2 linked regions of the Homo sapiens genome follow. The gene in region 1 interacts genetically with each later gene. Each region holds a gene or a part of one and is shown on either strand. Other genes may lie near its edges.

What was found.
Region 2: of EP300 (region 1) and ELK1, changing one enhances a phenotype caused by changing the other (phenotypic enhancement), as found in Homo sapiens cells (one study listed by BioGRID).

Annotation. Positions count from the first base shown.
Region 1 is NC_000022.11:41,143,473-41,148,733, forward strand, and holds part of EP300 (histone acetyltransferase p300), read left to right. Parts: intron 1-3,266; coding exon 3,267-3,344; intron 3,345-4,364; coding exon 4,365-4,474; intron 4,475-5,261. UniProt on the Homo sapiens protein: Functions as a histone acetyltransferase and regulates transcription via chromatin remodeling. Acetylates all four core histones in nucleosomes. Histone acetylation gives an epigenetic tag for transcriptional activation.
Region 2 is NC_000023.11:47,644,039-47,648,642, reverse strand, and holds part of ELK1 (ETS domain-containing protein Elk-1), read left to right. Parts: intron 1-4,604. UniProt on the Homo sapiens protein: Transcription factor that binds to purine-rich DNA sequences. Forms a ternary complex with SRF and the ETS and SRF motifs of the serum response element (SRE) on the promoter region of immediate early genes such as FOS and IER2.

The sequences.
Region 1 (5,261 bases):
TAAACTTTGAAAAAACAAAATTGAAAGAACTACGTAGAATGTTGAAGAAAACATAACATTCTCATCTTCATGTTTCTTTAACATTTGTTTTTTTGTTGTTGGTTTTGTTTTTGTTTTTTTTTTGAAACAGTCTCTCTTTGTCACTCAGGCTGAAGTGCAGTGGCACCATCTAAGCTCACTGCAACCTCTGCCTCCCAGATTCAGTTGATTCTTGTACCTCAGCATCCCCAGCAGCTGGAATTACAGGCATGCATCACCACACCTAACTAATGTTTTGTATTTTCAGTAGAGACAGGGTTTCACACCATGTTGGCCAACCTAGTCTCGAACTCCCGGCCTCAAGTGATCCGCGTACCTTGGTCTTGCAAAGTGCTGGGATTACAGGCTTGAGCCATCACACCTGGCCACGTTTGATTTTTTTGTTTTAATACAAAGAATACAGTTATTATAGAATCAGAGAGTGGCAATGGCAGGACTATGTGTATTGGCCTAAAAATATGCCCATAGTAAACTTATGTAACGTGTACCATCTTGAAAAAATAATCCCGGTTGTTAATGGAGTTGAAGGTAGGTAACTCTTTCCTTATTAATTTTTTGCAAAGATACGAAGTTTCAGGAAAAGCTGATGACAGAAGTATGCATGTTATAGTCTGAGTTTTTTTAAGTGTGGCATATGCCCTAGAAAAAGTTCTGGAAGAAGTAAATACTAATCTCTGAACATGGGCTTCTGATGGGGGCAGTGGAATTCCAGGATACTTGTGTTGTGTGATAAAGGGTTTTTGATTATTTGACTTAATGCATATAGTTTGCATTAAGGGCATATATATTGAAATGTGAAAGATGGACATTTTTGTTTGTGTATATTTTCTTTACCTCTAAATATTTATATATATACATTTTTGAGATGGGGTCTGTTTCGCCCAGCCTGGAGTGCAGTGGTGTGATCTCGGCTCACTGCATCCTCCATGCCTCCCAAGCTCAAGCAATCCTCCCACTTCAGCCCCCCAAGTAGCTGGGACCACAGGCACACGCCACCATGCCTGGCTAATTTTTTTTTATTTTTTAGTAGAAACAGGGTTTCTGTATGTTGCCCAGACTAGTCTCGAACTCCTGAGCTCAAGATATCCACCCACCTCGGCCTCCCAAAATGCTGAAATTACAGGTGTGACCCACTGCGCCCAGCCTTTAAATATTTATCTTAAAAAATAGTATCAAGATGTTCCTTTAAATAATTCATCAAGTTTCCTTAAAATGACAAGAGCTGCCTCATGGAGCAATAATAGATACATTCGTATCTGCATCATATGGGGCAAATGTGGGCAGTAGGATTGCGGTTTTATTTTTAAACCATTTTCATTTGATTAGTCTCAAATACTTAAAAATCAGAAGATTTTGCATTTAAAAAGTCTGAATTTCTGGCTGCTTTAAAAAAAAAAGGACATGTCTGGCAGACTTGACCCCCTTTCTCCTACAGTGACACCTGTCTATAGCTGCACTCATGGCTGACTCTAGAAGAGCTGTGTTTTCTCTCCACTTCAGTCCTCACCATTCTCTATTGTTTTGGGTACTTAAAACAGTTTTACTTGGTATTAGCTGCTTGGCACTTGCCATTTAGCTTGGAACACCTATCCATATTGTTGACTTGAAAAAAAAGTTACTCATATCTTAGGTGAAAACATTGTTTTGTAGATAGTGTGCGTGAATACAGATATGTGTGGGGAGGAAGAGGAAAGGTTTATCTCAAGGTCATTTGTTGGATCCTGATTCATTTTTCTATTGATTTTTAATTTTTATGTAATGAGCATGGATTATGCATATACTTCTTATAAAGCTTGCAGAGTTACAGATAAAAGTTTATATGAATAAATGTTGAGCATTTCCTCTCTCAGTTTTGCTCATTTACTAAAGGTTGAAATTTGTCTGAAGGGATGGACATCTCCTTAGAAGAGCAGCAGGTCTTCCTCTCCTATGCCTGAGGCTTGAATGTACAGCCCTTGATGGAGGGTATGGCCAGGGTGGAGCCAGGTCACTACAGACATCTGTCCTTTCCGAGGGTGCTGTAAAAATATTTTCTCTGTGCACTATGTTGAAAGTACTACACTAGAGCATGTGCAGATAATCCAGGAAAAAGACCTTAGAATTTATGTATTTATATTTTAGGTTTTTTTTGAGACGGAGTCTCGCTCTGTCGCCCAGGCTGGAGTGCAGTGGCACGATCTCAGCTTACTGCAAGCTCCACCTCCCGGGGTCATGCCCCGGGTTCACGCCATTCTCCTGCCTCAGCCTCCCGAGTAGCTGGGACTACAGGCGCCTGCCACCACGCCCGGCTATTTTTTTGTATTTTTAGTAGAGACGGGTTTCACCGTGCTATCTAGGATGGTCTCGATCTCCTGACCTCGTGATCCGCCCGCCTCGGCCTCCCAAAGTGCTGGGATTACAGGATATTTTATTTTTTTAAGAATTATTTCTGTTTTTGTATTTAAGAGGTACATGATATGTAGTGTGGTATAATATGCATATTATTTAAAATCAATGTTCACAGTTTATGTGCATAAAAACGTTGTGCTACATGATCAAATTCGGCCACCATTAGACATGATTCATAGCTATTATCCATGGAGATACTCTGTTGCATGCCAACCAGACTCAGACTTTGTTAAACAATAACATATTAAATGCTATGATGGCCTCAATTTTTTTTTTTTTTTTTGAGACAGAGTCTTGCTCCATCGCCCAGGCTGGAGTGCAGTCGTGTGATCTTGGCTCACTGCAACCTCCGCCTTCCAGGTTCATGCGATTCTCCTGCCTCAGCCTCCTGAGTAGCTGGGATTACAGGTGCCTGCCACCACGCCTGGCTAATTTTTTTGTATTTTTAGTAGAGACAGGGTTTCGCCATGTTGGCTAGGCTGGTTTTGAACTCCTGACCTCAAGTGATCCACCCACCTCAGCCTCCCAAAGTGCCAGGATTACAGGCGTGAGCCACTGTGCCTGGCCTATAATGGCTTCAATAGCTTATTTTTCTATCAACATTGAAAGCACCCGGGCTCATAAAGGAATACCAACAAATCCACTTGGAGGCATTTTTCTGTATTCCAGAAATAACATTTTCTTCAAGCTTCTGTCTAGTTCAGAGCTTTATTTTGTGATTCATACTCAATTTTCAAAGGTATTATTAAAAATATTTTGTGGGGTTTGTGTGTGCAGTGAGTTTTTGTTTGGTTAAGGGAAGATGGTGCAAAGATACTTATTTCTCTTTTTTACTCTAGATGGCCCTCTACCTGACCCAAGTATGATCCGTGGCAGTGTGCCAAACCAGATGATGCCTCGAATAACTCCACAATCTGGTAAATAGTGAAAAAAATTTTTTTATTTTAAAAGAATCCCCGGTGTACTGCAAGATAATACTTGCTACCTGAACACCCGCTTTATGCCAACAGCAAGTGTCATGATTACCTGCCCATAGAGGAAGAGGGGGTGAAGAGCAGGTTGGCTGGCAGATCACAGGGCAGGTGACATTAAATGATCAAGTATCCATTAAAAAACAACTGCAGGCTGGGCATGGTGGCTCACGCTTGTAATCCCAGCACTTTGGGAGGCCGAGGCTGGTGTACCACCTGAGGTCAAAGTACGAGACCAGCCTGGCCAATGTGGTGAAACCCTGTCTCTACTAAAAATACAAAAAAATTAGCCGGTTGTAGTGGCACGGGCCTGTAATCCCATTTACTCTGGAGGCTGAGGCTGGAGAATCACTTGAACCCAGGAGGCGGAGTTTGCAGTGAGGCGAGATCGCGCCACTGGACCCCAGCCTGAGTGACAGCAAGACTTCGTCTCAAAAAAAAAAAAAAAAGCAGATTGTAAAATTTGTAAAATTCAGTTTGGAGATCCTGTTAGTTGATAATGTCTGTTTACTGCTACTGTGAATGAGACAGATTTATTTATACTTAGAAGGTTGAAAGCCAGTTTATTAGTCCTGATAGAATCAGGGCCAGGTGCGGTGGCTCACGCCTGTAATCCCAGCACTTTGGGAGGCTGAGGCGGGCAGATCACAAGGTCAGGAGATAGAGACCATCCTGGCTAACACAGTGAAACCCCCGTCTCTACTAAAAATACAAAAAATTAGCTGGGTGTGGTGGCGGACGCCTGTAGTCCCAGCTACTCAGGAGGCTGAGGCAGGAGAATGGTGTGAACCCAGGTGGCAGAGCTTGCAGTGAGCGGAGATTGCGCCACTGCACTCCAGCCTGGGCGACAGAGCAAGACTCCGTCTCAAAAAAAAAAAAAGATACAGAATCAGACATAAGAATTCTATCTTTTATTATTCAATTTCACAAAGGCATTCAGATCTAACATTTTGCTCATATTCACAGGTTTGAATCAATTTGGCCAGATGAGCATGGCCCAGCCCCCTATTGTACCCCGGCAAACCCCTCCTCTTCAGCACCATGGACAGTTGGCTCAACCTGGAGCTCTCAACCCGGTTAGTTTGACGTCTTTGGTAATCTCTTTGGCCTTTACCTGGTATTTTGAAAATCCTGTTTGTTCCTACTTTATAAATTCTCACAGTCATTTAAACAGACCATAACTCCTAGTTCTTCTGTAATTCTTCTGTATTTAACTCTACTAGAAAGCTGACCAAAAAACGAAAACAGCCAGTCCCTTGTCCCTGGAGTGTCAGTGTTTAGTGGCCTGCATGCGTTTTCACGGTCACTTCTCTTCCCTGATGTCTGTCTTCCCTCCTCCAGGCAGAGAACTGTCTTGCAAGGTTGATGGTGCGTTTTTGCCTGGTTCTTGAACTCGGAGAAGAGAGACTAGGCTTCTCCTGCTCCTTATGCGAACTCTTAACCAGTCCATCTCTCTACCTTGACCCTAACCCTCCTGCTGCCCTTTAGAGTTAGCTGGTGCCTCTGATTCTTGACCCTTTTGGGGGTTCCTGAGCATTACTACTTCTCACTAATCTGCCATTTTCAACAGGGAGTTCTGTCCTTCATTTTAACCTATAAGACAGATGGTCTTAGCTTATGAAGTTTTTGGCCTTTGGTACTCGAGATTTCTTTCTTTAAGGCCTGAATTTGTGTAGGGTAATTTTGGAAATGACATGTAACAGTGCTAGAGCATTTGTGGACCATGAATGCTACCAGATTCTGCTACAACTTGTAAGATTTTCTTGTTTTTACATATTATGGGTCTTAGAATTTGTGTTATTACATCACTGACATGACCTCATGAAATTGTGATTAACTCTCCTCACTTAACAGAGCATGCAA
Region 2 (4,604 bases), on another chromosome or scaffold:
ACATAGCAGGCATGGGCCAGCCTCAGGGCCTTTGCATTGGCTGTTCTTTGTGCCTTGAACACCACCCCCAGATCTCTGCATGGTTCCTTTCAGCACTCTGTTCAAATACCAACCCCCAAAGGATGTTTACCACACTGTGGTGTGTGGAATGCAGTATAAAAAGATACATGTATGAAAGATGTTTCTAAGAATGCCAGTTTATATATGAGTAAGGGTTTTCCTCCTTTTCAAAAGGATGTGTTCACAAGACTGAGGTACGTAATATGCTCTGTAAAGGCATAGGTATAAAAGCTGTTTCTAAGAGTGCTAGTTGTATATGTGAATAAGGACTGTGTTGTTGCATTGAAAGAATGTGTTCACAAAACTGTGGTGTGTAGCTGGGCACAGGGGTGTGCACTTATAGTCCCAGCTACTCGGGAGGCTGAGGTGGGAGGATAGCTTGAGCCCAGGAGTTCCAGGCCAGCCTGGGCAATATAGCGAGATCCCTTTTTCTGAAAAAAAAAAACCCAAAAAACAACCACTGTGGTGTGTGTAATACACTCTCTTAAAGGCACAGGCGTAAAAGATGTTTCTAAGAGTGATTTGATTTTGTTGTACCTGGGTAGTGTTATTTCATTAAAGGTTGATTGTCACACCATGGTACTTAGAATATACTATACAAAGGCACATGTATAAAAAAGAAGTTCCTAACAATGCTACTTGTAAAAACAAAAAAAGTCAACCCCTCCCTGACCATCTGAAGCTGCACACCCAGCAGGGCTCAAGCCAGGTCCCTGATTTGTCCCGTTGCCCTTTATCACTGTCTGACACACTGTGTGGGTTACTTGTTTGTTGTCTGTCTCTCCTCATTAGAATGTGAGTCCCATGAGGACTCAGTTTTTGTCTGCTCATTCACCGCTATGTCTCCAGCAACTGAAAATGTACCAGGTAAACAGCAGATGCTCAATAAGAATTTATCCCATGAATAAATGGGAAAAAGATAATTTGAGACACCAGTGTAGGGGTCACATGAGGAAGAAGAAGGGATATGAGAGCTAATTAGTTGGGACTGTTCCTGCAACCAACCTTTACTGAGCCCCTTGTGAGTACCAGGCACTCTTCTAGGTGCTGGAATATGGCAAGGAACGAAACAGGGCGAAATATTTGTGCTTGTGGAGCTGACATTTATTAAAAGTTGGGGAGGCTGGGCACGGTGGCTAACACCAGTAATCCTAGCACTTTGGGAGGCTGAGGTGGGTGGATTGCCTGAGCTCAGGAGTTCAAGACCAGCCTGGGCATCACGGTGAAACCCCATCTCTACTAAAATACAAAAAAATTAGCTGGGTGTGGCGGCGTGCGCCTGTAATCCCAGTTACTTGGGAGGCTGAGGCAGGAGAATTGCTTGAACCCAGGAGGCGGAGGTTGCAGTGAGCCAAGATTGCACCATGCACTCCAGCATGGGTGACAGAGCGAGACTCTGTCTCAAAAAAAAAAAAAAAAAAACCCAAGCTGGGGAGACAGACTATGTGAACAAAATAAATAAGTAAAATTAGCATAATAGACAAATGCTGAGAAGAAATAATGAAATAGGGCAGGTAGGAATCGAGTATTGGGGGTGGTTGAAATCTTAGGCATAGGGAAGGTGACTCTTGAATTAGGGCCTCACGGTAGAGACGGAGAGAGCCTTAATGTCTACGGGAAGAGCATACCAGGCAGAAGGAAGTGCCAGTTCAGAGGCCCTGAGGTGGGATGGTGCCTGCCATGTTCAAGGAACATCAAGGCGGCCAGTGTGGCTGGAGCAGAGTGCGGGGAAGGGTAGAAGGTGAGGTCACACAGGTGATGGGAGCCAGATAGTGCAGGTGATACATAGGATAGGATTGCAGGGGCAGGGGGAGAAGGATGACACACTAGCTAATAGCTAATATCTGTGGAGTATCTGCCACACATCAGAGGCACTTTTCTGTTCAAATACCAACCCCCAAAGGATGTTTACCACACGGTGGTGCCTGGAATGCACTACAAAAAGATACATGTGTCAAAGATATTTCTAAGAATGCCAGTTTATATATGAATAAGGATTTTCCTCCTTTTCAAAAGGATATGTTCACAAAACTGAGGTATGTAATATGCTCTATGGAGGCACAGGTATAAAAGCTGTTTCTAAGAGTGCTAGTTGTATATGTGAATAAGGACTGTGTTGTTGCATTGAAAGAATGTGTTCACAAAACTGTGGTGTATAGCTGGGCACAGAGGCTGAGGTGGGAGGATCACTTGAGCCCAGGAGTTCCAGGCCAGCCTGTGCAACATAGTGAGATCCCCGTCTCCGAAAAAAAACCCAAAAAATAACCACTGTGGTGTGCATAATACACTCTCCTAAAGGCACAGGCATAAAAGATGTTTCTAAGAGTGATTTGATTTTCTGGCACCTGGGTAGTGTTATTTCAGTAAATATTCATTGTTAAACACTATGGTGCTTGGAATATACTATACAAAGGCACATGTATAAAAAAGAAGTTCCTAACAATGCTACTTGTAAAAACAAAAAAAAAAGTCAACCCCTCAAGTCTTTTACAGAAGTATTTTACAGAATTGACACAGTTAATCCTCACAGAAGCCTTGGAGGGTAGGTGTACTTTTGAGAATATTTGACTTTGAGAGTAAAATATCCCCATTTTACAGATGAGGAAACAAGCAAAGAGAGGCTGAGTAACTTGCTCAGGGTAACCTTGAGCCAGAATAGCCAGAACAGGGGCAGAGGAACATAAGGCTGAAGACTCAGAAAGAAGAACAGATTTGCAAGGGCAGGCAGGTTATTTGGCACCTTTGATCACGCAGAGGAAGAATGAATTCTTCCTGGAATGCGATGATTGTGTAATTGAGTCCATGAAGTGAGGGAAGAGCTCTCCCTGCGGGGAGAGCAGCCCGTGCTTACCCTCAGAGGTTGGAACTGTCTCGGGAACGGTAGATAGTTCAGGGTGGCTGCCTCAGAGCCTTTGTACACGCCGTTCGCTCCGCCTGAAGGCCCTCCCCCACAGAGGGCAGCCTGGCTTGCTACCTCCCCTCCTTCAGGCCAGGTGTCACTTCCTTGGGGAAGAACTCCTTGTACACCCTGTGTAAAAACAGCATTCCTGTCACTCTCTAGGATCTTACCCTTCTCTGTTTCTCTTCATGGAGAACTGGTGGTGTAAGGCGATTGCTCACTAGAGCCAAACCACTTAGGTTTTGAATTCCGGCTCTGCCAACTTCCAGCTGTGTGACTTGGGGCAGGTTACTTCTCTGTACCTCCATTGCCTCATGTGGAAAATGGGGGAAATGATAATCCCCACCCTTTAACGGTGGTTTGAGGATTCAATGAGTTAAATGATTCAAAGAGTGTGCAGCCCACGGTAAGGATCGTATGCCTGGCTTGCATTTTTAAATTATTAAAATGTATTCATAGCATACCCGTAGATGTCTGACAGGCCTCTGAAACTGACCATCTCCAAAACTGGTGTGACCCCCCTCAAAACTTACTCTCCTGCAAGGCTCCCACCTCAGCTGACCACAATGCTGTCTTTGTGGGTGATTAGGCCACAAACCTAGACTCACCCTGGACCCTTCTCTCACCTCCCCCGGGCATGCTATCTGTCAGCAAGTCCTATTCTGTGTTCAGGCTTTCTCCAGACCCCAGCTACTTCTCGCCAGCCCCACTGCTACCACCATCATCTACCGCAGTGGCTTCTTCAGCCCCAACAGTCTGTTCTTCTCACAACCGCCAGGGGGATCCTGTTGAAATCTCAGTCACAGCCTGTCATCCCTCTGTTCACAACCCTCTTGTGGCTCCTGTCTCACTCAACATCCTGACAGCACCCGAAAAAGCCTGGCTCAGTCTGGCCCCCGTCACTCTGTTCTCCTCTCCCGCTGCCTCCCTCCTCTCCCCCGAACCCATGTCAGCCTCCTCTCCCCATGTCACCTGCCAGGCACTCTCCAGCCTTGGGCCCTTCACACCGGCTGCCGCTTCCACCTGGCTTGCTGCTCTCAGATACTCACGAGCTCAGTTCCTTCACCTCCTTTTGGTCTCTGCCCAGTTGTCCCCTCCTTGGCGACTACTCTCCCCTGACTCTCCATGTAAAAGTAACAGCTCTCCCCTGCTTGATTTTTTTCCCATAACCCTTACCACCATCTGACGCACTCTTGTACATGTTTGCCTTTTTTCTCATCTGCCTTTCCTGCTAAGATGTGAGCTCCTCTGGAGCAGGGATTGTTGTCTGTTGCGTTCTCGACTGTATCCGCAGCACCTGGCCCACAGTATGCACTCACCAAATGCTTGCTAAGTGAAGGAGATGGAAAGAAGTAAACATATCTAAGCAAGGCAGATTACTAGAACTCTTATGAGGGGTCAAGTGGGAGAAATAACAAAATACAAAGCCCTGTGTGCTGTTGAAGCTGGAAGCCCACCGTCACCTTTCACTCAGCTGATAGGTTCTGTTGCAGCTGAAAGAAGAACTGGTAAAATTGCCTGTCTTTGCCACCAGGAGTCACTCTGAACTCTTTGGACTTCTGAAACAAGCCTGCCTGCAAAACAAATTCAGTGAGGTCTCTGGTGACAGGACTCTCTAATCGGACACTTCATGGCTTTGTGACTT